7 linked regions of the Homo sapiens genome follow. The protein of the gene in region 2 interacts with the protein of the main gene of each other region in a biochemical or structural test. Each region holds a gene or a part of one and is shown on either strand. Other genes may lie near its edges.

Region 1 (3,500 bases), on a different chromosome or scaffold from region 2:
TAGTGACAATAAAGAGAAGTAGGGAAAAGATGTTGTAAAGGGCAGCGCTTGATGACTGACAATAAAAAATACACCTCAGCCCAACAATGTATTACAGTAACTTAGTAAACCTAAAAAGTGTTTGAGAGGGGAAGACAGTTTTGTTGGAAACATGAGTACAGGTTTAGAGATGACAGGTTTGAGGTGACAAACCCCGAGTGAAAATTTCTAGCTGTATTGAGAGATGTGGAACTAAGTCACACAGAGAAGTAAAAATGGAATCTGGAAACGAAAGATCCATGAGAAAGGAAGGGAGTAGGATATAGAAGAGAAAGCTAACAAACTTTCATCTTTTCTGCAACTTCAGGCAGTGTAATGGGGAGCCGTTTTTCCTTGTCTAAGTGAGTCTTAATGTTCTCTGGCTTTAAGGATGTGCTGCATAAGTGGCCAGTCCACAAAGTATCCTTGAACCTGGCCCATGCCCATGGACCAACTCTTCTGTTATAATCTTTTGAAGCTTTATTATAATTTTAGTTATTTTGAAAAACATGGCATTATTTTAATCTAGATAGATTATACCCACTTCTGCCATGGGCACAACTTACTGTTGGAGATCAAAACAACTGAAACAAAATCTGCCTTATATCAGTGTTACAGAAGAGGCTTCCTAGTGTTTTTCTATCCTCGGGACTCAACTCTGTTGAGTTTTTTTTTCTTTTCTTTTCTTTTTTTTTTTTTTTTTTTGAGAAAGAGTCTTGCTCTGTTGCCCAGGCTGTAGTGCAGTGGTGTGATCTTGGCTTGCTGCAACCTCTGCCTCCCAGGTTCAAGCCATTCTCCTGCCTCAGCCTCCCGAATAGCTGGGATTACAGGCATGACGGCCACCACGTCCAGCTAATTTTTGTATTTTTAGTAGAGACGAGGTTTCACCATGTTGGCCAGGCTGGTCTCAAACTCCTGACCTCAAGTTAATCTGCCCGCCTTGGCCTCCCAAAGTGCTGGGATTACAGGAGTGAGCCACCGTGCCTGGCCCAAGTTTATTTAAATTTAACATCAAGTAACCTAGCTTGATAGCCTCCCATTTTTCTTATTTTCCTTTTTTTTTTTTTTTTTATTTGAGACGGAGTCTCTGTCGCCTAGGCAGGAGTGCAGTGGCGCAATCTTGGCTCACTGCAACCTCCATCTCCTGGGTTCAAGCAGTTCTCCAGCCTCAGCCTCCCAAACTGGGATTACAGGTGCCTGCCACCCAACACAGCTAATTTTTTGTATTTTTAGTAGAGACAAGGTCTTGCTGTGTTGGCCAGGCTGGTCTTGAACTCCTGACCTCAGGTGATCCACCCGCCTCAGCCTCCCAAAGTGCTGGGATTACAGGTGTGAGCCACCATGCCCGGCTTTTTGTTGTCATTTTAATTGTTTATTGCTCCACTGATATTTTCTTTGCAGACCAAAATGTTACAATTTTTTTTTTTTTTTTTGAGGCGGAGTCTCATTCTGTCGCCTGGGCTGGAGTGCAGTGGTGCCATCTCTGCTCACTGCAAGCTCCGCCTCCTGGGTTCACGCCATTTTCCTGCCTCAGCCTCCCGAGTAGCTGGGACTACAGGCGCCCGCCACCACGCCTGGCTAATTTTTTGTATTTTTAGTAGAGACAGGTTTTCACCGTATTAGCCAGGATGGTCTCGATCTCCTGACCTTGTGATCCGCCCACCTTGGTCTCTCAAAATGCTGGGATTACAGGTGTGAGCCACCGTGCCTGGCTGGCTGCCATATGTCTTATGAGACAGCCAAGCTAGCATGTCAGTATCGAGTAGACCTAATCCATTGTTAACTCTCCTCAGAAATAAATTCTTTTTTTTTTTTTTTTTTGAGATTGGGTCTCACTATGTTGCACCGGCTGTTCTTGAACTCCTGAGCGCAAGCAATCCTCCAACCTCAGCCTCCCACATAGCTGGGATTACAGGTGAATGCCTCTGCACCCAGATCCTCATAATCATTAGGAAGAAAGAGCTGAGGGGGAGGGGTGGAGGAGGATGCTTAGGAGACCTTTTATGATAATAAGGGAGGAAACATTGAGAAGAGGAAGAGTAAGTTATAGAAGCTATAGCTATTGCGTGAGCTCCATTAGAAATTTGATAGCTAAAGGGAATTAGGGCTGTTTAAAATGTCACTCTTACATCCGTCATTTGACATGATATGTGACCTTTTTAAATAGAAATGTTTTCCCATGTTTTGACAGGGACTTATGTAGAATAAGTATTTAGACTACAGTACATAATATCTATAGTTGCCATGGCAACTCAGCATAGCATGCTGACACTCCAAAGTTGTACAAATAGAATCCTAATCTGAGAATGTTTAAGTAGTCAGATAATGTCTGTCAACAATAAACTAAAGCAAAATTCTCAAGTAAATATAGCCTGTTAAAATAACATTTACAGATGGCTGAACAACTATATAGATCGTTGACTTTTTTTAAAGAAAAAGAATGCTAATTAATTAATAATAGAAAAGATTACATTTCATCAGCCTAAGAGCTGGAACCAGGGATATAGAGAGGATGTTAGACTATTACTTAAATCTAAATATTATCTACTCTCATTTGTTTTCTCAATTTAATGAAGTAAAACCCCATTATATGTTAGGTCTCTCTCTAATAGAAAAGTCATAAAGTTGAGAGCTACAGTTAGGTTACAAAATGAATTAGCCCATGCTTGTTCAAAGTACTGCAGTAGTTTTAAAATTCTGGGCCGGGTATGGTGGCTCATGCTTGTAATTCCAGCACTTTGGGAGGCTGAGGCCGGAGGATTGCTTGAACCCAGGAGTTCCAGACAAGACTGGGGAATATGGCGAGATCCCATTTCAATTAAAAAATAAAAACAGTTCTGAGAAGACAATTTAACATAAGTACCAGTTTTAAAAGCACATGCCCATGCGGGCATGGTGGCTCACGCCTGTAATCCCAGCACTTTGGGAGGCTGAGGTGGATGGATCACAAGGTCAGGAGTTCAAGAACAGCCTGGCCAAGATGGTGCAACCCTGTCTCTACTAAAAATACAAAAATTAGCCAGGCGTGGGGGTGGGCGCCTGTAATCCCAGCTACTTGGGAGGCTGAGGCAGAGAATTGCTTGAACCTGGGAAGTGGAGGTTGCAGTGAGCTGAGATCGTGCCACTGCACTCCAGCCTGGGCAACAGAGTAAGATTCTGTCTCAAAAAAAAACCAAAAACCAAAAAACCACAAAACAAAAAAATCACATACCCTTTGACAGAAAATTTGTCTTACAGAACATTTCACATATATGCAAAGATAAATGTACAAATAATTTATACCAAAGCATAATTAAAATGGTAAAAGTTAGAAACATACTGCATCACTATAAAATGAGAAGTGTTAAATTATGCTCCTAAGCAGTTATTAAGAAGAGCTAACCTGATGGTATCCCAATCCAGTAACAGAAGATGGCTATGATGGCACTGGGAGGGCAAGGTAGAAAGGGCCAAATAAGCTGGAGAACAGAGCATGCAATCCA
Region 2 (3,500 bases):
AAAATTCCAAGTATTTGTAAAACTAGTGGGAAGTAAGAGGGAAGCTCGAGTTTTGATTGAAAAGTGGCATAAAACTAAGGGCATTTATTGTACTCAGATCTGAAGCAAGTTCTGTGTTGCTGAGGTAAAAGCATTTGTGTTAATATGGTTTTAAAAACCATGAGTTCTTCTCCCTCCATTGCAGGATTGCTTATATTGAATTTAAGACAGAAGCTGATGCAGAGAAAACCTTTGAAGAAAAGCAGGGAACAGAGATCGATGGGCGATCTATTTCCCTGTACTATACTGGAGAGAAAGGTCAAAATCAAGACTATAGAGGTGGAAAGAATAGCACTTGGAGTGGTAAGAAATTAGGCTTGTTACAAGGTTTCAGAATTGGTGGAGGGAACTCCTTTGTGTCTTTGTATTTCATAAGTTTATAAATACTTTTTAATCAAAGTTACTCAAATGTAGGTGAAGATCAAGGACATGATACCCCAAGTCATACTCTTATTTGGAATAGTAATTTCCAATCTTGAATGAGAGCTCTAAAATCATTTTGCATTGGAATACAGTAGGCAAATCAAGCTTCCTTTGTAGGCATGTTTTATACTTTAAATGACTTGACCATGTGCGTTTTGAACTCAGATGATTCTAGGAAAACAGACCAGTCATCAGCCTATGTAAGAACAACCAGCAGGACATTGCAACACGTACTAGGTACTTAATATGTTGAGTAACAGAAATGGATTTAGCTTACGTCATGAGTATTTGTATATTAACTCAAGCACTGAAATTCTTAGGAATAAGATATTACTGTTGTGACCGAAGCTGGGAACCACTGTTTCAGAGTCTTAGGAATGTGGCATCTCTATTTGCAGGTGAATCAAAAACTCTGGTTTTAAGCAACCTCTCCTACAGTGCAACAGAAGAAACTCTTCAGGAAGTATTTGAGAAAGCAACTTTTATCAAAGTACCCCAGAACCAAAATGGCAAATCTAAAGGGTAAGATAATACCTTTGTATCATCAGTTATAGGCTATATATGTCTTAGAGGTCTAAAGGAACGTAAGGTCATGTGATCCTGTCAGAAAAGCCAAATAATTTTAGCTACGTAAATGAGTGTAAAATAAAGATCATCATTTAGGTACCAACTTGAGAGAAGGGGCTTGGCAGCATCATGTGACAGTGAAGGAGCATGTGCCTGGTAACTTACTCTAAGCATTAACTGTTCATCCTCAGGTATGCATTTATAGAGTTTGCTTCATTCGAAGACGCTAAAGAAGCTTTAAATTCCTGTAATAAAAGGGAAATTGAGGGCAGAGCAATCAGGCTGGAGTTGCAAGGACCCAGGGGATCACCTAATGCCAGAAGCCGTAAGTTCACCTGGTTAGGGTGCTGTGGTTGGGGGTAGCACTCTCGGTGCTTTGTTTATTTTTTGCACAAATTCTGTGTTTCCTGTTGCTACTGAGTGAACAATAACTGGATATGATGACTGATTACCTGAGAAATAATTGATGAAATCTCAAGAAAATTCCTCTAGATAGTCAAGTTCTGATCCAGCTGTGTCAACTCAGAGTAGCAAGTTTGCCCATGATTTCCTGCCCCATCCACTGGGCCCCACCTGCTTGGGTTGCTTCTCCCACTTTCCATAGAAGATCTGGGGCAGGATATCAACTATGCAATGGCAATTAAAAAATGTAAACCCAGAATAGCCTTTACTTTAATTAAGGACTAGTTGGCTTAGTTGCTTTTAACTGCTTTTTCACTATAACAAGTATTCTTGGCTAGTAGTCATACTAGGCATTGTGCAAATTCAGTGTTACGAACTGTGACTTCACATAAAGTCACATTTTTTTTTCCTTCCCAGAGCCATCCAAAACTCTGTTTGTCAAAGGCCTGTCTGAGGATACCACTGAAGAGACATTAAAGGAGTCATTTGACGGCTCCGTTCGGGCAAGGATAGTTACTGACCGGGAAACTGGGTCCTCCAAAGGGTAAGGGAAGGAAGCGTGAGTGCTGCTTCCACTTGAAGGGGTTTTTGTTCTGTGCAGACCTTGAGTCTAATGTGTCTTCTCATTGAGCTCCTTTCTGTCTATCAGTGGCAGTTTATGGATTCGCACGAGAAGAAGAGAGAATTCACAGAACTAGCATTATTTTACCTTCTGTCTTTACAGAGGTATATTTAGCTGTATTGTGAGACATTCTGGGGTTCAAGCTGTCACACCAGTTAGTTTTCCATAGAGAGCTACTCTGTCACTGGTATCTTTTCCCAAATAAACAAGGCTACTTTCTGTGGGATGGCTCCCCAGCATGTACAGTTAACTTGGGACATGTGTAGTAGGTGCTTTTTATAATGGGCAATTTCATTTGGTGTTCTAGGTTTGGTTTTGTAGACTTCAACAGTGAGGAGGATGCCAAAGCTGCCAAGGAGGCCATGGAAGACGGTGAAATTGATGGAAATAAAGTTACCTTGGACTGGGCCAAACCTAAGGGTGAAGGTGGCTTCGGGGGTCGTGGTGGAGGCAGAGGCGGCTTTGGAGGACGAGGTGGTGGTAGAGGAGGCCGAGGAGGATTTGGTGGCAGAGGCCGGGGAGGCTTTGGAGGTAAGGCACGCAGAGATAATGACACCACATAGCATGTGCTCTTCAGACCCTGTGCCCTGTCACGGTTCCTAATCACTGGGGAGGAGGAGCTTTGTACCCATTCTTTTAACAGTGTCTTGCCTTCCTCCTGTAGGGCGAGGAGGCTTCCGAGGAGGCAGAGGAGGAGGAGGTGACCACAAGCCACAAGGAAAGAAGACGAAGTTTGAATAGCTTCTGTCCCTCTGCTTTCCCTTTTCCATTTGAAAGAAAGGACTCTGGGGTTTTTACTGTTACCTGATCAATGACAGAGCCTTCTGAGGACATTCCAAGACAGTATACAGTCCTGTGGTCTCCTTGGAAATCCGTCTAGTTAACATTTCAAGGGCAATACCGTGTTGGTTTTGACTGGATATTCATATAAACTTTTTAAAGAGTTGAGTGATAGAGCTAACCCTTATCTGTAAGTTTTGAATTTATATTGTTTCATCCCATGTACAAAACCATTTTTTCCTACAAATAGTTTGGGTTTTGTTGTTGTTTCTTTTTTTTGTTTTGTTTTTGTTTTTTTTTTTTTTGCGTTCGTGGGGTTGTAAAAGAAAAGAAAGCAGAATGTTTTATCATGGTTTTTGCTTCAGCGGCTTTAGGACAAATTAAAAGTCAACTCTGGTGCCAGACGTGTTACTTCCTAAAGAGTGTTTCCCCTGGAATGTCACTGGAGAGCATGGCAAAGCCAGCTCTGCCACTTGCTTCACCCATCCCAATGGAAATGGCTTAGTGCGTGTTTCCAGTATCCCAGCCCTAACTAACTTGGTTGAAATGCTGGTGAGGGGACCTGCTCCTGCAGCCCTGGTGCTGACTTGAAGGCTGCTGCAGCTTCTCCTACTTTTAGCAGGTCTGAGGATTATGTCCTGAAGACCACTCTGGAAAGAGGTGCAGG
Region 3 (3,500 bases), on a different chromosome or scaffold from region 2:
TCACTGCAGCCTCTGCCTCCAGGGCTCAAGCAATCCTCCCACCTCAGCCTCCTGAGTAGCTGGGACTACAGGTCCATGCCACCATGCCCAGCTAATTTTTTTTTTTAAGACAGTCTCTCGATGTCACCCAGGCTACAGTGCAGTGGCACGATCTTTGCTCACTGCAACCTCCAACTCCCAGTTTCAGGAATTTGGCCGGCATGGGTGAGGGTGGGAAGAAGGCTGCTGAGTGTGGGCGGGGGCTGGGCAGACTCCCTTCACTCCCCAGGGCAGCGGCCCAACTAGGTTGGATATTTTTTTTTTTTTTTGAGACGGAGTCTCGCTCTGTCGCCCAGGCTGGACTGCAGTGGTGCGATCTCGGCTCACTGCAAGCTCCCCCTCCCAGGTTCACACCATTCTCCTGCCTCAGCCTCCCGAGTAGCTGGGACTACAGGCACCCGCCACCACGCCCGGCTAATTTTTGTATTTTTAGTAGAGATGGGGTTTCACCATGTTAGCCAGGATGGTCTCCGTCTCCTGACCTCGTGATCCACCCGCCTCGGCCTCCCAAAGTGCTGGGATTCCAGGCATGAGCCACCGCGCCTGGCCGGATTTTTTAAAAATAATAATTTACCTTCTCATCGTTTCGAGTGCACAGTTCCAGGGCCTTGAGCACGTTCACTCACCGTGCCACCGCCACCACCATCATCTCCAGAACCTCCTCATCTTCCCAAACTGAAGCTCTGTCCCCATTCAACAAGGGCTCCAGATTTCCTCTCCCCAGTCCGGGGCACCCACCCTTCTACTTTCTGTTCTTTTCTTGTTTTTTTTTTTTTTTTTTTTTTGAGACGGAGTCTTGCTCTGTTCCCAAGGCTGGAATGCAGTGGCGCCATTTCAGCTCACTGCAACCTCTGCCTCCTGGGTTCAAACGATTCTCCTGCCTCAGTCCCCTGAGTAGCTGGGATTACAGGCGCCTGCCACCACGCCCGGCTAATTTTTGTATTTTTGGTAGAGACAGGGTTTCGCCATGTTGGCCAGGCTGGTCTTGAACTCCTGACCTCAGGTCATCCTCCCAACTTGGCCTCCCAAATGGCTGGGATTACAGGCATGAGCCACCGTGCCTGGCCTCAACTTTCTGTCTCTATGAATCTTATGACTCCAGGGACCTTGTAGAAGTGAAACCATGCGGTATTCATTTTTTTTTTTTTTTTTTTTTGAGGCAGAGTCTCATTCTGTCGCCCAGGCTGGAGTGCAGTGGCACCTTCTCAGCTCACTGCAAGCTCCGCCTCCCAGGCTCATGCCATTCTCCTGCCTCAGCCTCCCGAGTAGCTGGGACTACAGGTGCACGCTGCCATGCCCGGCTAAGTTTTCTGTATTTTTAGTAGAGATGGGGTTTCACCACGTTAGCCAGGACGGTCTCGATCTCCTGACCTTGTGATCCGCCTGCCTCGGCCTCCCGAAGTGCTGGGATTACAGGTGTGAGCCACCATGCCCGGCTGGTATTCATTCTTTTGTGACTGGCCAGTTTCACTCAGTCTAACGTCTCCAGGTTCACAGATGCTGTGGCGAGTGCTGGGATTTCCCTGCATGTGAAGACAGGATCATACCCTGTGTGGATGAACCACATTGCGTGTGCCCGTTTGTCTGCAGGCGGACACTGGGCTGCTCCCACCTCTGGGCCATTGTGAATCGTGCTGTGTGAGCACGAGGGTGCAGATGTCTCTCTGAGACCCTGCTTCAGGTTGTTTGGGTCTGTACCCAGGACTGGAGTTGCTGGGTCCCATGGCGATTCTGTGCTTACCTGGTTGAAGAACTGCTAGACAGGTTTCCCCTACCTGGTTTTGCACTCAAGCCACAGGCCAGCAGGTCACACGTGCCCGCTTCCTGCCTGCCTGCCCTGTGGCCGGGTGTGGAGGGCTGGTGTGGGCGATGAGCTGGCACTCAGGGCTGGGAGGAGCTGGAGGCCTTTCCCTCTGTCCTGCGCCTGGTGCCCAGGCCCTGGCCAGGCTCCCCCCAACTTCAGCCTAGACTGGGCCCCCTCTCCAAATGCACCGGAGCTGTGGTGTGGGCCAAGGTTACTGCTTTGTGGACTCCTTGGGCCGCTGCACCGGCCGTGACCGCAGCCAGCTTCCCCGACGCACAGATGCTGTGAGCTAGACCTCAGCTCTGGACATATCTCAGGTTAGGTGTGGCACTGCCCCTGCCCCCAGGCCCTGTGCTCCTAGGCCACTGCCGTTTTAGACTCAGAGGCATTTGCCAAGCCTTGCTCTGTGGCAGTACCTGGCAGCCAGCCGCATCCCCCAACTGCTTCTCCCGTCACCCGTCAGGTGGCTGCATGGCCCCATTTTGCAAATGAAAGAATGAGGAAACAGGAAGGGACTTGGTGGGGTCCAAGGTGGCTGAGGCGGCACGTGGCCGTGTGGCCAGGAGGTATGTGCTCATGTGCCCGGGGGAGGCAGAGGCCCACAAGGGCTGAACTCCAGTGGTGCCCTACCCTGGACTCCGGCGGGCAAGGCGCCTTCCCCCGCTCCGTACACATGTACTGAGTGCCTTGCCCTGTGCAGTCACTGGGGCTCAGGGAGACCGGACCAGACCAGCCCTTCACTCTCAGCATCTGCTGTTCCTTGGTGGGGAGACAAAGACAGACAGATGGTGATGGCACTTGGGGACAAGGAGGGCCGAGGGTAGAGTAAGAATTGTGAGTGAGGGCCGGGCATGGTGGCTCACGCCTGTAATCCCAGCACTTTGGGAGGCTGAGGCGGGAGGATCACGAGGTCAGGAGATCAGGACCATCCTGGCCAACATGGTGAAACCCCATCTCTACTAAAAATACAAAAATTAGTTGGGTGTGGTGGCGCACGCCTGAAATCCCAGCTACTCGGGAGGTTGAGGTGGGAGAATCGCTCGAACCTGGTAGGCAGAGGTTGCAGAGAGCCGAGATCATGCCACTGCACTCCAGCCTGGGCGACAGAGTGATATTCTGTCTCAAGGGAAAAAAAAGGACATAGAATCTTGGATGCCCCGTAAACGCGTTTTCAGGAAGGAGTACTGGGCACCTATGGGCTGGGAGGTGGGTCAGGGAGGAGCAAACTGACCCCAAGTCACTGTCCAGGTGGTGGTGGTGACAGCTTAGCAGGTGAATGAGAGGCCAGAGGGGGTCGTGGCACCTGGAGATGCATTTGGAGAAGTTCTGCTAAGACCGGGGCAGAGACCTGCAGTGGGAGCTCGGCCTGGCATGCAGGGGAAGGCTTTGGAAGTGACTGTTTTCCTCATGGAGGACGAGGCCAGGCCATGGGCCGGCGGGGAGGGAAGCCGAAACTCGGGCCACCATGGAGCGCTTCTGCAGGGCGTGTTCCATTCAGAAGCTCAGGCCTCGGTGGGTACAGAGGTGGGCTCCGTACTGAATGATGGAGGGAGGGGTGAGGGGCAGAGGGCATTGCACTGATGGACCTGGGATCCCACCCGGGCAAGGGGGCAGGGCAGACATGGGGTGAGGAGGGAGGGACAGACATGGCTGGGTC
Region 4 (3,500 bases), on a different chromosome or scaffold from region 2:
GCAGGGCTTCTGCTCACCTCTCTCCTGCCCCTTCCCCACTGCCCTTCTGCCCGGGGCCACCAGAGTCTCCTTTTCTGGCCCCCGCCCCCTCCGGCTCCTGGGCTGCAGGCTCCCGAGGCCCCGGAAACATGGCTCGGCTTGCGGCAGCCGGAGCGGAGCAGGTGCCACACGAGGCCTGGAAATGGCAAGCGGGGTGTGGAGTTGCTCCTGCGTGGAGGACGAGGGGCGGGGGGTGTGTCTGGGTCAGGTGTGCGCCGAGCGTTTGAGCCTGCAGCTTGTCAGCTCCAAGTTACTACTGACGCTGGACACCCGGCTCTCACACGCTTGTATCTCTCTCTCCCGATACAAAAGGATTTTATCCGATTCTCATTCCTGTCCCTGTCGTGTGACCCCCGCGAGGGCGCGGGCTCTTCTCTCTGTGACTAGATTTCCCATCTGGAAAGTGCGGGGTTGACCGTGTAGTTTGCTCCTCTCGGGGGGCCTGTGGTGGCCATGGGGCAGGCGGCCTGGGAGAGCTGCCGTCACACAGCCACTGGGTGAGCCACACTCACGGTGGTAGAGCCACAGTGCCTGGTGCCACATCACGTCCTCTGGATTTTAAGTAAAACCACACACCTCCCGGCAGGCATCTGCCTGCGACCCTGTGTGTGCCTGGGGAGAGTGGTAGCACGGAGGAAATTCGTGCACACTCAAGGTCATCAGCAAGGTCATCCGCAGTCAGGTGGAACGTGGAGGCCTCTCTCTGGGATCGTCTCCAGCGGATAAAGGACTGTGCACAGCTTCGGAAGCTTTTATTTAAAAATATAACTATTAATTATTGCATTATAAGTAATCACTAATGGTATCAGCAATTATAATATTTATTAAAGTATAATTAGAAATATTAAGTAGTACACACGTTCTGGAAAAACACAAATTGCACATGGCAGCAGAGTGAATTTTGGCCGAGGGACACGTGTGCACATGTGTGTAAGCGGCCCCCAGGCCCACAGAATTCGCTGACAAAGTCACCTCCCCAGAGAAGCCACCACGGGCCTCCTTCGTGGTCGTGAATTTTATTAAGATGGATCAAGTCACGTACCGTCCACGTGTGGCAGGGCTTTGGGGAATGTGAGGTGATGACTGCGTCCTCATGCCCTGACAGACAGGAGGTGACTGTGTCTGTCCTGTCCCTAGGACACGGACAGGCCCGAAGCTCTAGTCCCCATCGTGGTCCAGTTTGGCCTCTGAATAAAAACGTCTTCAAAACCTGTTGCCCCAAAAACTAAGAACAGAGAGAGTTTCCCATCCCATGTGCTCACAGGGGCGTATCTGCTTGCGTTGACTCGCTGGGCTGGCCGGACTCCTAGAGTTGGTGCGTGTGCTTCTGTGCAAAAAGTGCAGTCCTCTTGCCCATCACTGTGATATCTGCACCAGCAAGGAAAGCCTCTTTTCTTTTCTTTCTTTTTTTTTTTTTGAGACGGAACGTCACTGTTGTCTGCCTGGGCTTGAGTGCAGTGGCGCGATCTCAACTCACTGCAACCTCCGCCTCCCGGGTTCCAGCATTTCTCCTGCCTCAGCCTCCCGAGCAGCTGAGATTACAGGCACCCACCCCCTGCGCCTGGCTAATTTTTGTATTTTTAGTAGAGAGGGGTTTTTGCCATGTTGGCCAGGCTGGTCTCGAACTCCTGACCTCAGGTGATCCACCCACCTCGGCCTCCCAAAGTGCTGGGATTACAGGTGTGAGCCATCACGCCCAGCCGGAAAGCCTCTTTTTAAGGTGACCACCTATAGCGCTTCCCGAAAATAACAGGTCTTGTTTTTGCAGTAGGCTGCAAGCGTCTCTTAGCAACAGGAGTGGCGTCCTGTGGGCTCTGGGGATGGCTGAGGGTCGCGTGGCAGCCATGCCTTCTGTGTGCACCTTTAGGTTCCACGGGGCTATTCTGCTCTCACTGTTTGTCTGAAAACGCACCCTTGGCATCCTTGTTTGGAGAGTTTCTGCTTCTCGTTGGTCATGCTGAAACTAGGGGCAAGGTTGTATCCGTTGGCGCGCAGCGGCTACATGTAGGGTCATGAGTCTTTCACCGTGGACAAATTCCTTGAAAAAAAAAAAAGGAGTCCGGTTAAGCATTCATTCCGGGTCAAGTGTCTGGTTCTGTGAATAAACTCTAAGATTTAAGAAACCTTAATGAAAGAAAACCTTGATGATTCAGAGCAAGGATGTGGTCACACCTGTGGCTGGATCTGTTTCAGCCGCCCCAGTGCATGGTGAGAGTGGGGAGCAGGGATTGTTTGTTCAGAGGTCTCATCTGGTATGTTTCTGAGGTGTTTGCCGGCTGAATGGTAGACGTGTCGTTTGTGTGTATGAGGTTCTGTGTCTGTGTGTGGCTCGGTTTGAGTGTACGCATGTCCAGCACATGCCCTGCCCGTCTCTCACCTGTGTCTTCCCGCCCCAGGTCCTACGTCCAGTGCCAGGGGATCCCGCAGGGCTCCATCCTCTCCACGCTGCTCTGCAGCCTGTGCTACGGCGACATGGAGAACAAGCTGTTTGCGGGGATTCGGCGGGACGGGTGAGGCCTCCTCTTCCCCAGGGGGGCTTGGGTGGGGGTTGATTTGCTTTTGATGCATTCAGTGTTAATATTCCTGGTGCTCTGGAGACCATGACTGCTCTGTCTTGAGGAACCAGACAAGGTTGCAGCCCCTTCTTGGTATGAAGCCGCACGGGAGGGGTTGCACAGCCTGAGGACTGCGGGCTCCACGCAGGCTCTGTCCAGCGGCCATGTCCAGAGGCCTCAGGGCTCAGCAGGCGGGAGGGCCGCTGCCCTGCATGATGAGCATGTGAATTCAACACCGAGGAAGCACACCAGCTTCTGTCACGTCACCCAGGTTCCGTTAGGGTCCTTGGGGAGATGGGGCTGGTGCAGCCTGAGGCCCCACATCTCCCAGCAGGCCCTCGACAGGTGGCCTGGACTGGGCGCCTCTTCAGCCCATTGCCCATCCCACTTGCATGGGGTCTACACCCAAGGACGCACACACCTAAATATCGTGCCAACCTAATGTGGTTCAACTCAGCTGGCTTTTATTGACAGCAGTTACTTTTTTTTTTTTAATACTTTAAGTTCTAGGGTACATGTGCACGACGTGCAGGTTAGTTACATATGTATACATGTGCCATGTTGGTGTGCTGCACCCATTAACTCATCATTTACATTAGGTATATCTCCTAATGCTATCCCTCCCCACTCCCCCCATCCCATGACAGGCCCTGGTGTGTGATGTTCCCCACCCTGTGTCCAAGTGTTCTCATTGTTCAGTTCCCACCTGTGAGTGAGAACATGTGGTGTTTGGTTTTCTTTCCTTGCAATAGTTTGCTCAGAGTGATGGTTTCCAGCTTCGTCCATGTCCCTACAAAGGACATGAACTCATCCTTTTTTATGACTGCATAGTATTCCGTGGTGTATATGTGCCACATTTTCTTAATCCAGTCTATCATCGATGGACATTTGGGTTGGTTGCAAGTC
Region 5 (3,500 bases), on a different chromosome or scaffold from region 2:
TTCTTATAATTGAGTTAGCCAGGTGATTCTTTAGGTCTCAGTTGATTTGACTGGGGCAGGATGGTCCAGGATGACCTCATTCACAATCTAGGACCACAGCTGGGGCAGCAGGGATAGCTGAGGTCTCATCCTCCAGCCTGTGAAGTTCATGCTGCTTCCCATGGTGGTCCTCCTGGGGTTCCTAGCAGCAGAGAGAGGGAAACCTCAATGTATAGGCACTTTTCAACCCTCTACCTGTGTCATATTTGCTAATAACCCTATTGGCCAAAGCAAATCACATGGCCAAGCCTAGCTTCAAAGCATGGAAAAACCGACTCCACTCTTGATGGGAAAAGCATTGAATATGTAGGCATATTATAGAGAGACATGCCTACAGGGGTGGCAGGCATTTGCAGCCATCTTTCCTTGCCATGTGTCGTCATCCCCTTCTTGCATGAGTCTTCCTAACCTACCCCTGTAGCCGTGGCTCGTTAATGCAGGGAAAAGTGATGGGTAGAATGTCTAAGAGACTTACTAATCCCAAGCACAATGAAATTTGAAGAATTACTGGTTGGTGGAGGAATGATCATTTTGTTTGTCTAGATAAGCACTTAAAGGAATGCTCAGTTTGTAAAATGGAATACACCCATGGGTCCTAGATTTTTGTGTCCTGGATCACTAAGAACCTAATGAAAACTATGAACTGCCTCCAAAAATGCATGTATTAATATGCAGTCTTGTGAAAAGTTTTAGGGTAGTTGTAGATCTTAAGAACAGTTCTATGAAATGAATGTGTTTTTATAAGAACTTGTACGCACCACTTTTTATTAGAGAAAGCTGAGGTGGTGGATTTAAGGTTCACTCTTATGGCTAATGGGTCTTCCTTTTTGTCAGTAAGATCAGAAACACGAAAAAGGTCGAGCTTGATTTATCCCACGTTTCTCCATGTCTTCTCTAGACTAAAATTGAAGCATTGGTGTGGATAAAATTTGCAGTGCCATGATCCTGTGAACTGTCAGGCTAGCTCCTTTCCTGGAAGTGCTTCCTGAGTAATCCCATGCACTCTCACCCCATGAGAGCTACAATTCAGATCTCACAGTTGGTTATTTTTAAGTAAGATGGTTTGAGATTTTGTGTTATTTAACCATCAGCCAAAGCTAAAGTTGTATAAGCTAGCCTGCCCTTAGGTCCCATAAAGACATCCAACTAATGCAGGTCTTCCCAGGTGGACATGTGGGTGTCACTCAATGTCTGATGTCCTTTCTGCTTTCTGGAGGTAGCAGCTAGGCAGTGAGGACATATACTTATTTTTGCTAATGAGACGTAGAATCCCAGATGAAACTTGAAAAACGTCATTCATGCTTAATGGTCAGAAACTGTACGAGATTTTAAAACTGAAATAATTCCCCAAAGAATTTCAAAGCATGTCAGTAACTCCATAGGGAGTCCGACTAGGAAACTTGGCAAAAGAATTAATTACCTTACTGTATTTGTTCAGCCTTTGCTTTCATTGAGTATTTTTCACATGCCAGGTATTGTGGTCTTAATTAGTTTATTCCTTTGGACAAAGAGTAGGCAATATAGCAGAATCAACACTTGGTAAATTTTCTCTTTGAAAAGAAAAAACAGGAGTGGGGAAGACTAAATATTTAACTCCTTTGAAAATGTAGAAGCAACTGAGGCTGAGGGCTGCAGTGTGATGACTCGGTGACTTAACCTGATCTCCTGATTCAGATTCAAGGAGGTCTGCCCTCACAACCCCTGGTTTCATAAAGCACTGCCACAAAGGCACTTTGGAATCTTGCTACAGTTATTATAAAACAGAGGGAAAAAATTGAAGTAGAATGTAAGTGAAGTAAATAAATCTTAAACGTACAGTCTTTTGGATGTTTGTGTATGTAAAACTCTCACCCAGATTTACACAGGACGATGATATCCAGTATAGTTAGTAACCACTGCCCATAGGTAGCTATTTAAATTAAGTAAAATTCAAAATTTAGTTGCTGGCCAGACTCGGTGGCTCACGCCTATAAATCCCAATGCTTCGGGAGGCCAAGGCAGGTTGATTGCTTGAGCTCAGGAGTTCAAGACCAGCCTGGGCAACATGGCAAAGCCCCATAGCTACCAAAAAAAAAAAAAAAAAAAAAATATATATATATATATATATATGCATGCTCCAGGTGTAGTGGTACATGCCTATGGTTCCAGCTACTCAGGAGGTGGAGGTGGGAGGATCCACTTGAGCCTGTGAGGCAGAGGTTGCAGTGAGCTGAGATCATGCCACTGCACTCTAGCCTGGGCAACAGAGCAAGGCCCTGTACAAAAAAATAAAATAATAAAATAAAATTTAGTTCCCTAATCACACTAGGCACATTTCAGGTGCTCAGTGGCCTCATGTGGCTAGTGGCTACCGTATTATAGAGTGCAGGAATAGAATATTTCCATCATTGCAGAAGGTCCTATTGGACAGGGCTGGTAGAGGATATTGTGAACATCCTGCAGGGCTCTCTTGTGTTCTTCTGTTCAGTGTCTCCTCTGAAGATTATATCTTTATATGTATCCCCATAGTTAGTAGTGCCTGTTCTTGATCTTCAAATAACAAGCATTCTTTCTTTTTTTATCTGTCGCCCAGGCTGGAGTGCGGTGGCATGATCTCGGCTCACTGCAACCTCCACCTCCCGGGTTCAAGCAGTTCTCCCGCCTCGGCCTCCTGAGTAGTTGGGATTACAGGCACGCACCACCACACCTGGCTAATTTTTGTATTTTTAGTAGAAACGGGGTTTCACCCTGTTGGTCAGGCTGGTCTCAAAACTCCTGACCTCGTGATCTGCCCGCCTTGGCCCCCAAACTGCTGGGATTACAGGCGTGAGCCACCACGCCTGGCCATAACAAGCATTCTATATTGTATACTCTTGGTTCAGGGAAAAGCACAGATCGAGGGAGCTTATTCCTGGAATGCTAATCCTAGGGCTCATTCTCTGCCTTGTGTACTCCTCCAGCATGAAGAAGTCCATTCAAGTGTCCTCAAGAGTCTAGTTTATTGCTTCTTATCCAGGTCAAGCTTGTCCCCCAGGGGACATTGGGCAAAATCTGGAACCATTTTTGGTTGTTAAAACTGGAGGGGGGCTCTAGTGGTAGGTAGAGGACAGGGATTCTACTTGAAGAGTATTTCATTGACCTTGTGTAGGATTCAGGTGCTTGTTAAGATTAGCCAAAGGTCCTGAATTTGAAGTTTATGAAGATAGTTATTATGTTAGGCAAGGGAGATTTAGAAGCAAATTTTTACATTAAAAAAATGGAGCTTAACAATCTAATAAATGATTGAAAGATTTGAATCAGCATTTCTCCAAAGAAGATTTAGAATGGCCGGTAGACACATAAAAAGAAGTTCCACTTCATCACTCATTATGGAAATAAAAATCAAAACCACATGGAGATACCACTTTACACCCACCAGCAAAGCTATAATCAAAAAGTTGAACAATGACAGGTGTTGATGAGAATGTGGAGAAACTTGAACC
Region 6 (3,500 bases), on a different chromosome or scaffold from region 2:
ATGGGAAGGGTAGAAGGGAGATGGTAAATTAAAACATTTATTACACATTTCAGAAAAATTTAGCAGACAGGTAAGTGAGTGAAACTAGAAGCTTAAGACAACAAATGAAAAATGAATACCTACCAAAAAGAAATTAAGGGTCAGGCACAGTGGCTCATGCCCAGCACTTTGAGAGGCTGAGGTGGGCAGGCTGCTTGAGCCCAGGGGTTCAAGACCAGCCTGGGCAACATGGCGAGAAACCTCGTCTCTACAAAAAATGCAAAAATTAGCCCGGCGTGGTGACATGCACCTGTAGTTCCAGCTACTTGGGAGGGTGAGGTAGGAGGATCGCTTGAGCCCAGGAGGCAGAGGTTGCAGTGAGCTGCAATCACACTACTGCGCTCCAGCCCGGGCAACAAACAGAAACCCTGTCTGCCCCCCACCCCGCCCAAAAAAAAAGTAAAGGAAAGAAGTTAAAATTAAAAGTTGCCTACCTTCCTTGGAATTTCTTTCTTACTAAACGTTAAGAGACATAAATGACACACATAAAGACAGTTAATACAAACTTCGATACAGATAGCCAAAGTTGATATTACGATCTATATACTCCAGAGATATGCATGAGATACCAGTAACATCACTTCTCTCCCAGTGTGAAAAATATCTAGGATCTTTCCTATACACACAGAAAATGTTCAACAATATCTATTTACTATTAAATCATTTCAGCAAACTATCAGCCATTTCTCATAACGCCACCAAAATACCATCAATATCTAACAGACATTCCTCTACAAGCTTCCCCGCAACCCCCAATCAAACTTTGTCCACCCTGCCCTCATTTACATCCCTCTCCACCCTTCCCAGGCCCTATGCTATCAACACAGCACATACTGTCCACATCTAGATAGGCAGGTGGCAGGGAGGGTGGGGGTTGGCAAAATGCTAATTATTCCAACCCTGGCCTCTATTTTAGATTTTCTACTGCAGCTATTGGCCTGGAGCCATGGGGATGGAAAGCTGCTGCTCAAACTTGAGATGTATGAGGCATGGAAATAGGGAGAAAAGACAGTTCCAAATATTACTACTCGAAGTTTAAACACAATCTGAAAGCTTCCTTTAAACACAATACCCATTCGCCTCTTAAGGACTAGTTTGGAAGTCTCTAAACTTTTTACCTTAAGAAATCCATGTGTCAACTGTTTGCCTAAATGCCCTTATTATCCAAAGTTAATGGTTTCAAAATAATTAAGGGATAGTCAGATAATCTAAACCATACAACACAGAAAATTCACTCAACTGACTCTCACCTCCACATCCAATATATTTTACTATTCTTTCAATAGGGTTTTTTTTTTTAAACCTCCAGGTCCAATGTCAAAATACTCATTTCAAACATTTCCACAGCTTCATTCAAACTAATTACATTTGAATTCATTTTCCCAAGCAAACACAGTTTACTGGAGTTCGACACAGTTTCACATGGGAAAGATGCAATCCCTCACAAAACACACTTCTGAGGAAACGACTTTGGATTTGAAGAATATCAGTTTTACTTTGCACTAAAAAGATGGCAAAAGGCAAAAGTTGATAATGATGTGTCATATAAATATGCATTCATGTCCAACTAATATGAAATAACATGGTTTTAGTATAATCTGAAACTTCTAAAATGATATGTATTCAGAAAGCACAACAGAATCATTTTCCATACCATTAGCAGCAGGGACAACTGTTACTATATAATTAATATACAACAAAGCTGTATATTAGAAGGCAAACATTTTTTTGCACCTCCCCACCCCACACATGCACTGAAAACAAGCAAAACAAAAAAACCTCACAGCCCAATTTTGGAATATAAACTTTAAGACATGTTATTTAATAATCTGAACAAACTAATGAATGTCTTTCCAACTCTCTCAATTCCCCATCTTTATGCTGACAGCAAGGGGAAAAAGTCAGACTCAATTCCTTTTTTTTTTTTTTTTTTTTGCTGCTATTGGTTAAAATGAGATTTGGGGACTGACCTTGGTTTCCTATTTTCCATTTTACTCTATCTACTGAACCAAAGAAAAGCAGGAGTTGGTGACCGTTACTGCTAGCTATATTATTTAGTTTGCACCTTTCAAGCCACAACGTATTTCTGATTCTTTTAGTGATGCCTGGATTTTCTTGTTTTTACTAGAAACATCCAATCCGAGCCTAAAATTTGTTTGTGAGATCTGATATGCTGGTAAACTAAAAAAACACATATTGACAAGCAACTTTCTTTTATGTCAAAGCATAGTATAAAAATCCTAGCGGCTCACTAATTCTAAAAAGGTGCCTCAAGGAGTCCAGTTGCAATGTAAGGGAAGAAAACCACCCTGGAGCATAATGCTTAAGTATTTCCTGATTGAGTCTGAGGATGCTGCAGATTTCATTTGGCGGTACCATCACTTTTCAGTTTTAAAAATGTAGTGGCAATTTTCAGATAGCCACATCATCAGCTATCTGAAATTCCCCCACCGCAATCAGCTATGCTACCGCCCATCCCAACCCATACCCAACAGACAGAAGTACAACTATCTATTAGCATCAGAAACAATTCATATTTAATTACCTTCATCCAATTTGATTCCATTAAGCCAACCAGAATCAGCACAAGATGATGTCAAACCATGATCCTATATATCACTTCTTAGACTAAAGACTGATGGAGCCAAGTATTGTGCTTTGCTAAGGGGGTCAAATGGGGGAGAACTCCCTATCTCCATAGCAGACAGGCAAAAACTTCAAGACCTCTGAAACAGCAGAAGAATCGCTAACACTTTAACCTGGTATTACCATTATCAATTCTACAGATAGCTACGCAGCCTGTACAGTACTGTAATAATGACTCAGCCCCACTACAGTTAGTTCTACCAATACTTAGGAAGTCTTTTCACTTAGACTTAGATATGGTTTCTGCTCCAAATTCCTAACTCACTGTCAACATTTTAAATATAAATAACAGAGTCTCCCAGCAGTTGAGTATGGGTCAGAATGTTCTAAATTACATGCAAAGAGCTACAATTTTAAATATTGCGAAGAATGAGCTCCAAAGTGGGGGGACGGGGGGGAATCTTTTATATCTTAGGGGATGAGGGCAGGCAAAATGAGAGACGTTTGATTTTAATATATGAACTTGTACAGTTAATCTGTAAGATGGGTTAGGCCCTCTTAAAATCACGCTTAAACAATCTCTTAATACAAAGTTCAATAATGACATGTCTGGGCATAATTAAACATTGATTTCTACTTTTTTTAAAGTTTTTTTCATAGTTACATAAATCAATCACTGGTTAACAATGTATTACTTGAGATAGCAAGCATAGTTACCAACACCACATCTTCCAGACAATATTCACAAAGAATAATTACACCAATGTCAGAACTTTATGGTGGCAGATTCTCTTCAAAAAGCATGTTTAGATAAAAAGCAAATGACAAATTATCAAATCCTTCCTTCTCTCCTTTTTCAGCTCTGTAAGAAAATA
Region 7 (3,500 bases), on a different chromosome or scaffold from region 2:
ATTTCACATGTACCCCATAAATTTGTATAAATAATAATATAAAAGGTCTGTCCAATGTGGCCACAGTCTGGGACCAAGTAAAAAGTGTTAAGGGATGAAGAATCTTTACCCTCCAAGTTAGAGGAAGAATTTTTTCCCAGTCTTCAATGTAAAGCACTGAAAAATGTGGCTTTTTCAACATTTTTGCTGAAATGGTACAAAAGGCCGGAAGAGAAAGCGCTACTGCAGTTAGGAAAGGTCACCAAACCCCAGCAGCTGCTGCGAGTTGGTCTCTCGGACAGGGCCTCATCATTGGTTGAAAAAAGTTGATCTGTTTTTCAGTCCTACGCCAGTTCAGTCTAGAATAGTCCAAAAATAGAATGGGCTCCCTATGTTCTTTTTTATTTATTTCCCAAAGTGGATATTTTAAAATCATAAAGGTAACTAATTTTTAGGTAAAACTTTTGGGTAATACAAAAAAGGAAATGAAGTATAAAGAAAGTGAAACTGAAAAAAAAAAAAAAAAGCCCCAAGCTCTATACAAAGCACTTCAAAAAGTTCTTGGAGGCCAGGCTCGGAGGCTCACACCTGAAATCCCAGCACTTTGGGAGGCCGAGGCAGGCAGATCACGAGGTCAGGAGATTGAGACCATCTTGGCTAACACGGTGAAATCCCGTCTCTACTAAAAATACAAAAACTTAGCTGGGCGTGGTGGCAGGCGCCTGTAGTCGCAGATACTCAGGAGGCTGAGGCAGGAGAATGGCCCGAACCTGGGAGGCGGAGCTTGCAGTGAGCCGAGATGGCGCCACTGCACTCCAGCCTGGGCGAAAGAGCAAAATTCCATTTCCAAAAAAAAAAAAAAAAAAGGTATTGGACAAATGAGATTAAAATTAAAGATATAAACTTTATTTCTCAACATAAGCTCCATCAAGGTCAAGACACTTTTATAAGTGATGACACCAGCCATTTAGTCCATCCCCTAGCAATTGAGGGTCCTGGGAATTTAACCATGCCAATGCAGTCTTTTTTACATTTTGTTTTTTTATGCTGTTTTCTGAGACAGGGTCTTGCTCTTTCACCAAGGCTGGAGTACAGTGGTGCAATTCTAGCTCACTGCAGCCACAACCTCCCAGGCTCAAGCGCTCCTTCCACCTCAGCCTCCCGAGTAGCTGAGACTTCAGGCACACACCACCATGCCTGGCTAATTTTTGTATTTTTTGGCAACGACAGGATTTCATCATGTTGCCCAGGTTGGTCTTGAACTCCTGAACTCAACCGATCTACCAGCCTCAGTCTCCCAAAGTGCTAGGATAACAGACATAAGTCACCACGCCTGGCCTTTTTTTTTACACTATTAACTGAAGAAAGATGGGTACCCTTTACAGATTTTTTTTTTTTCGAGATGGAGTCTCGCTTCATCGCCCAGGCTGGAGTACAGTGGCACGATCTCGGCTCACTGCAACCTTCGCCTCCCAGGTTCAAGTGATTGTCCTGCCTCAGCCTCCCCAGGAGCTGGGATTACAGGCGTTGGCCACCATGCTGGGCTAATTTTTGTATTTTTAGTAGAGACGGGGTTTCACCATGTTGGCCAGGCTGGTCTCGAACTCCTGACCTCAAGTGATTCGCCCGCCTTGGTCTCTGAAAGTGCTGGGATTACAGGCGTGAGCCACCATGCCCGGCCTCCTTTACAGATTTTTTAAGATTAGAAAACAAAAAGAAGTTAGAAGGAGCCGAATTTGGACTGTAAGATGATGCATAATCACTTCCCATTGAAACTCTCACAAAATTGCCCTTGTTTGATGAGAGAAATGTAGTTGAAGCATTGTCCTGGGGGAGAAGGACTCTCTGGTGAAGTTTTCTCAGATGTTTTTCTGCTGAAGCTTTGGCTAACTTTCTCAAAACACTCTCATAATGAGCAGATGTTATTGTTCTTTGGCCCTCTAGAAAGTCAACAAGCAAAATACCTTGAGCATCTCCCAGAAAACTTTACCATGGCCTTTGTTCTTGACTGGTCTGCTTTTGCTATGACAGGACCACTTCAACCTCTCGGTAGCCATTGCTTTGATTATGCTTTGTCTTCAGGATCATACTGGTAAAGCCATGTTTCATCTCCTGTTACAGTTCTTCAAAGAACTGCCTCAGGATCTTGATCTCACTTGTTTAAAATTTCCATTGAAAGCTCTGCTCTTGTCTGCAACTGATCTGGGTGCAATGGCATTGGTACCCATTGAGTGGAAAGTTTGCCCAGCTTTAATTTTTCAGTCAGATTTGTGTGAGCTGCACCAATTGAGGTATCTGTGGTGTTAGCTATTGTTTGTGCTGTTAATTATTGCTTCTCTTCAATTAGGGCATGAACAAGATGATTTTTTTCATTGTAAATTGATGTAGATGGTCTGCTGCTGCAGGCGCCATCTTCAACATCATCTTGTCCCTCCTTAACAAGTTATCCATTTGTAAACTGCTAATTTTGTTGGGGATTTGTCCCCGTAAACTTTTCTGAAAGCACCAGTGATTTCACCATTCTTCCATCCAAGCTTCACCATAAATGTTGATGTTTGTTCTTGCTTCAATTTTAGCAGAATTCATGTTGCTCTGAGAGGGGCTGTTTTCAAGTTGATGTCGTATCCTTCTTAGTGCCTCAAACAAAATCCCACTCAGACATGTTATAACAAGTTAGTATGAGTTTATTTTGGTGCAAAACAATTTGAAATCCATGCATAGCTTTTTCATACTATGTGTTTTCCATGAACTTTTCTAAGTCACCTTGTATAAGAGTATTATATGATCTCATTTATATGAAATTTTAGAACAGGCAAAACTGTACTGATAGAAGACAAATAAGTGGTTATCTGGTGTTGGAATGGGGTAGAGATTCTGCGAAGGGGGATGAGTGAAGTCTTTTGGGGTGACATTTAGGATGATAAGTAATGTTTTATATCTTGATTGTTGTGGTTACATGGGTATATACATTTGTCAAAAATCAAACTATTTTTTTTTTTTCGAGATGGAGTCTTGCTCTGTCACCAGGCTGGAGTGCAGTGGTGCGATCTTGGCTCACTGCAGCCTCCGCCTCCTGGGGTCAAGCGATTCTCCTTCCTCACCCTCACTAGTAGCTGGGACTACAGGTGTGTACCACCACTCCCAGCTAATTTTTGTATTTTTAGTAGAGACAGGATTTCACCATGTTGGCCAGGATGGTCTCGATCTCTCAACCTCGTGATCCACCTGCCTCGGCCTCCCAAAGTGCTGGGATAACAGGTGTGAGCCACAGTGCCCGGCCCAAACTTAATACGGGTACACTTTATTGTTTCTAAACTACACCTCAATAAATGTTGATTAAGTGAAAATTAACAATGAGATACAATTCCATACCCATCATATTGGCAAAAATTTTGTAATCTGGTAGTGTCAAGTGTTGGTGAGTATATGGGGAAAGGGGAACTATTCTATTTCATTGATGGAAGTAAATATTGGTACAATCACTGTTGAGCCATTCAGCAGAATAATTTGGCAGTCTCTAG

What was found.
Region 1: the proteins of NCL (region 2) and RAD51 form a complex in vitro, tested with the Homo sapiens proteins (one study listed by BioGRID).
Region 3: the proteins of NCL (region 2) and ADAP1 form a complex in vitro, tested with the Homo sapiens proteins (2 studies listed by BioGRID).
Region 4: the proteins of NCL (region 2) and TERT form a complex in vitro, tested with the Homo sapiens proteins (one study listed by BioGRID).
Region 5: of the proteins of NCL (region 2) and CSNK2A2, one has a biochemical effect on the other in vitro, tested with the Homo sapiens proteins (one study listed by BioGRID).
Region 6: the proteins of NCL (region 2) and TOP1 form a complex in vitro, tested with the Homo sapiens proteins (2 studies listed by BioGRID and IntAct).
Region 7: the proteins of NCL (region 2) and ADAP2 form a complex in vitro, tested with the Homo sapiens proteins (one study listed by BioGRID).

What each region holds. Positions count from the first base shown.
Region 1 is NC_000015.10:40,712,174-40,715,673, forward strand, and holds part of RAD51 (DNA repair protein RAD51 homolog 1), read left to right. Parts: intron 1-3,500.
Region 2 is NC_000002.12:231,454,485-231,457,984, reverse strand, and holds part of NCL (nucleolin), read left to right. Parts: intron 1-184; coding exon 185-342; intron 343-860; coding exon 861-984; intron 985-1,220; coding exon 1,221-1,354; intron 1,355-1,461; exon of another isoform or gene 1,462-1,541; intron 1,542-1,848; coding exon 1,849-1,975; intron 1,976-2,048; exon of another isoform or gene 2,049-2,185; intron 2,186-2,360; coding exon 2,361-2,584; intron 2,585-2,717; coding exon 2,718-2,794; 3' UTR 2,795-3,500. UniProt on the Homo sapiens protein: Nucleolin is the major nucleolar protein of growing eukaryotic cells. It is found associated with intranucleolar chromatin and pre-ribosomal particles. It induces chromatin decondensation by binding to histone H1.
Region 3 is NC_000007.14:948,181-951,680, reverse strand, and holds part of ADAP1 (arf-GAP with dual PH domain-containing protein 1), read left to right. Parts: intron 1-3,500. UniProt on the Homo sapiens protein: GTPase-activating protein for the ADP ribosylation factor family. Binds phosphatidylinositol 3,4,5-trisphosphate (PtdInsP3) and inositol 1,3,4,5-tetrakisphosphate (InsP4). Regulates the incorporation of CD63 and CD9 into multivesicular bodies.
Region 4 is NC_000005.10:1,267,569-1,271,068, reverse strand, and holds part of TERT (telomerase reverse transcriptase), read left to right. Parts: intron 1-2,435; coding exon 2,436-2,549; intron 2,550-3,500. UniProt on the Homo sapiens protein: Telomerase is a ribonucleoprotein enzyme essential for the replication of chromosome termini in most eukaryotes. Active in progenitor and cancer cells. Inactive, or very low activity, in normal somatic cells.
Region 5 is NC_000016.10:58,170,607-58,174,106, reverse strand, and holds part of CSNK2A2 (casein kinase II subunit alpha'), read left to right. Parts: intron 1-2,820; exon of another isoform or gene 2,821-3,500.
Region 6 is NC_000020.11:41,031,822-41,035,321, reverse strand, and holds part of TOP1 (DNA topoisomerase 1), read right to left. Parts: intron 1-3,500. UniProt on the Homo sapiens protein: Releases the supercoiling and torsional tension of DNA introduced during the DNA replication and transcription by transiently cleaving and rejoining one strand of the DNA duplex.
Region 7 is NC_000017.11:30,938,945-30,942,444, forward strand, and holds part of ADAP2 (arf-GAP with dual PH domain-containing protein 2), read left to right. Parts: intron 1-3,500. UniProt on the Homo sapiens protein: GTPase-activating protein for the ADP ribosylation factor family. Binds phosphatidylinositol 3,4,5-trisphosphate (PtdInsP3) and inositol 1,3,4,5-tetrakisphosphate (InsP4). Possesses a stoichiometry of two binding sites for InsP4 with identical affinity.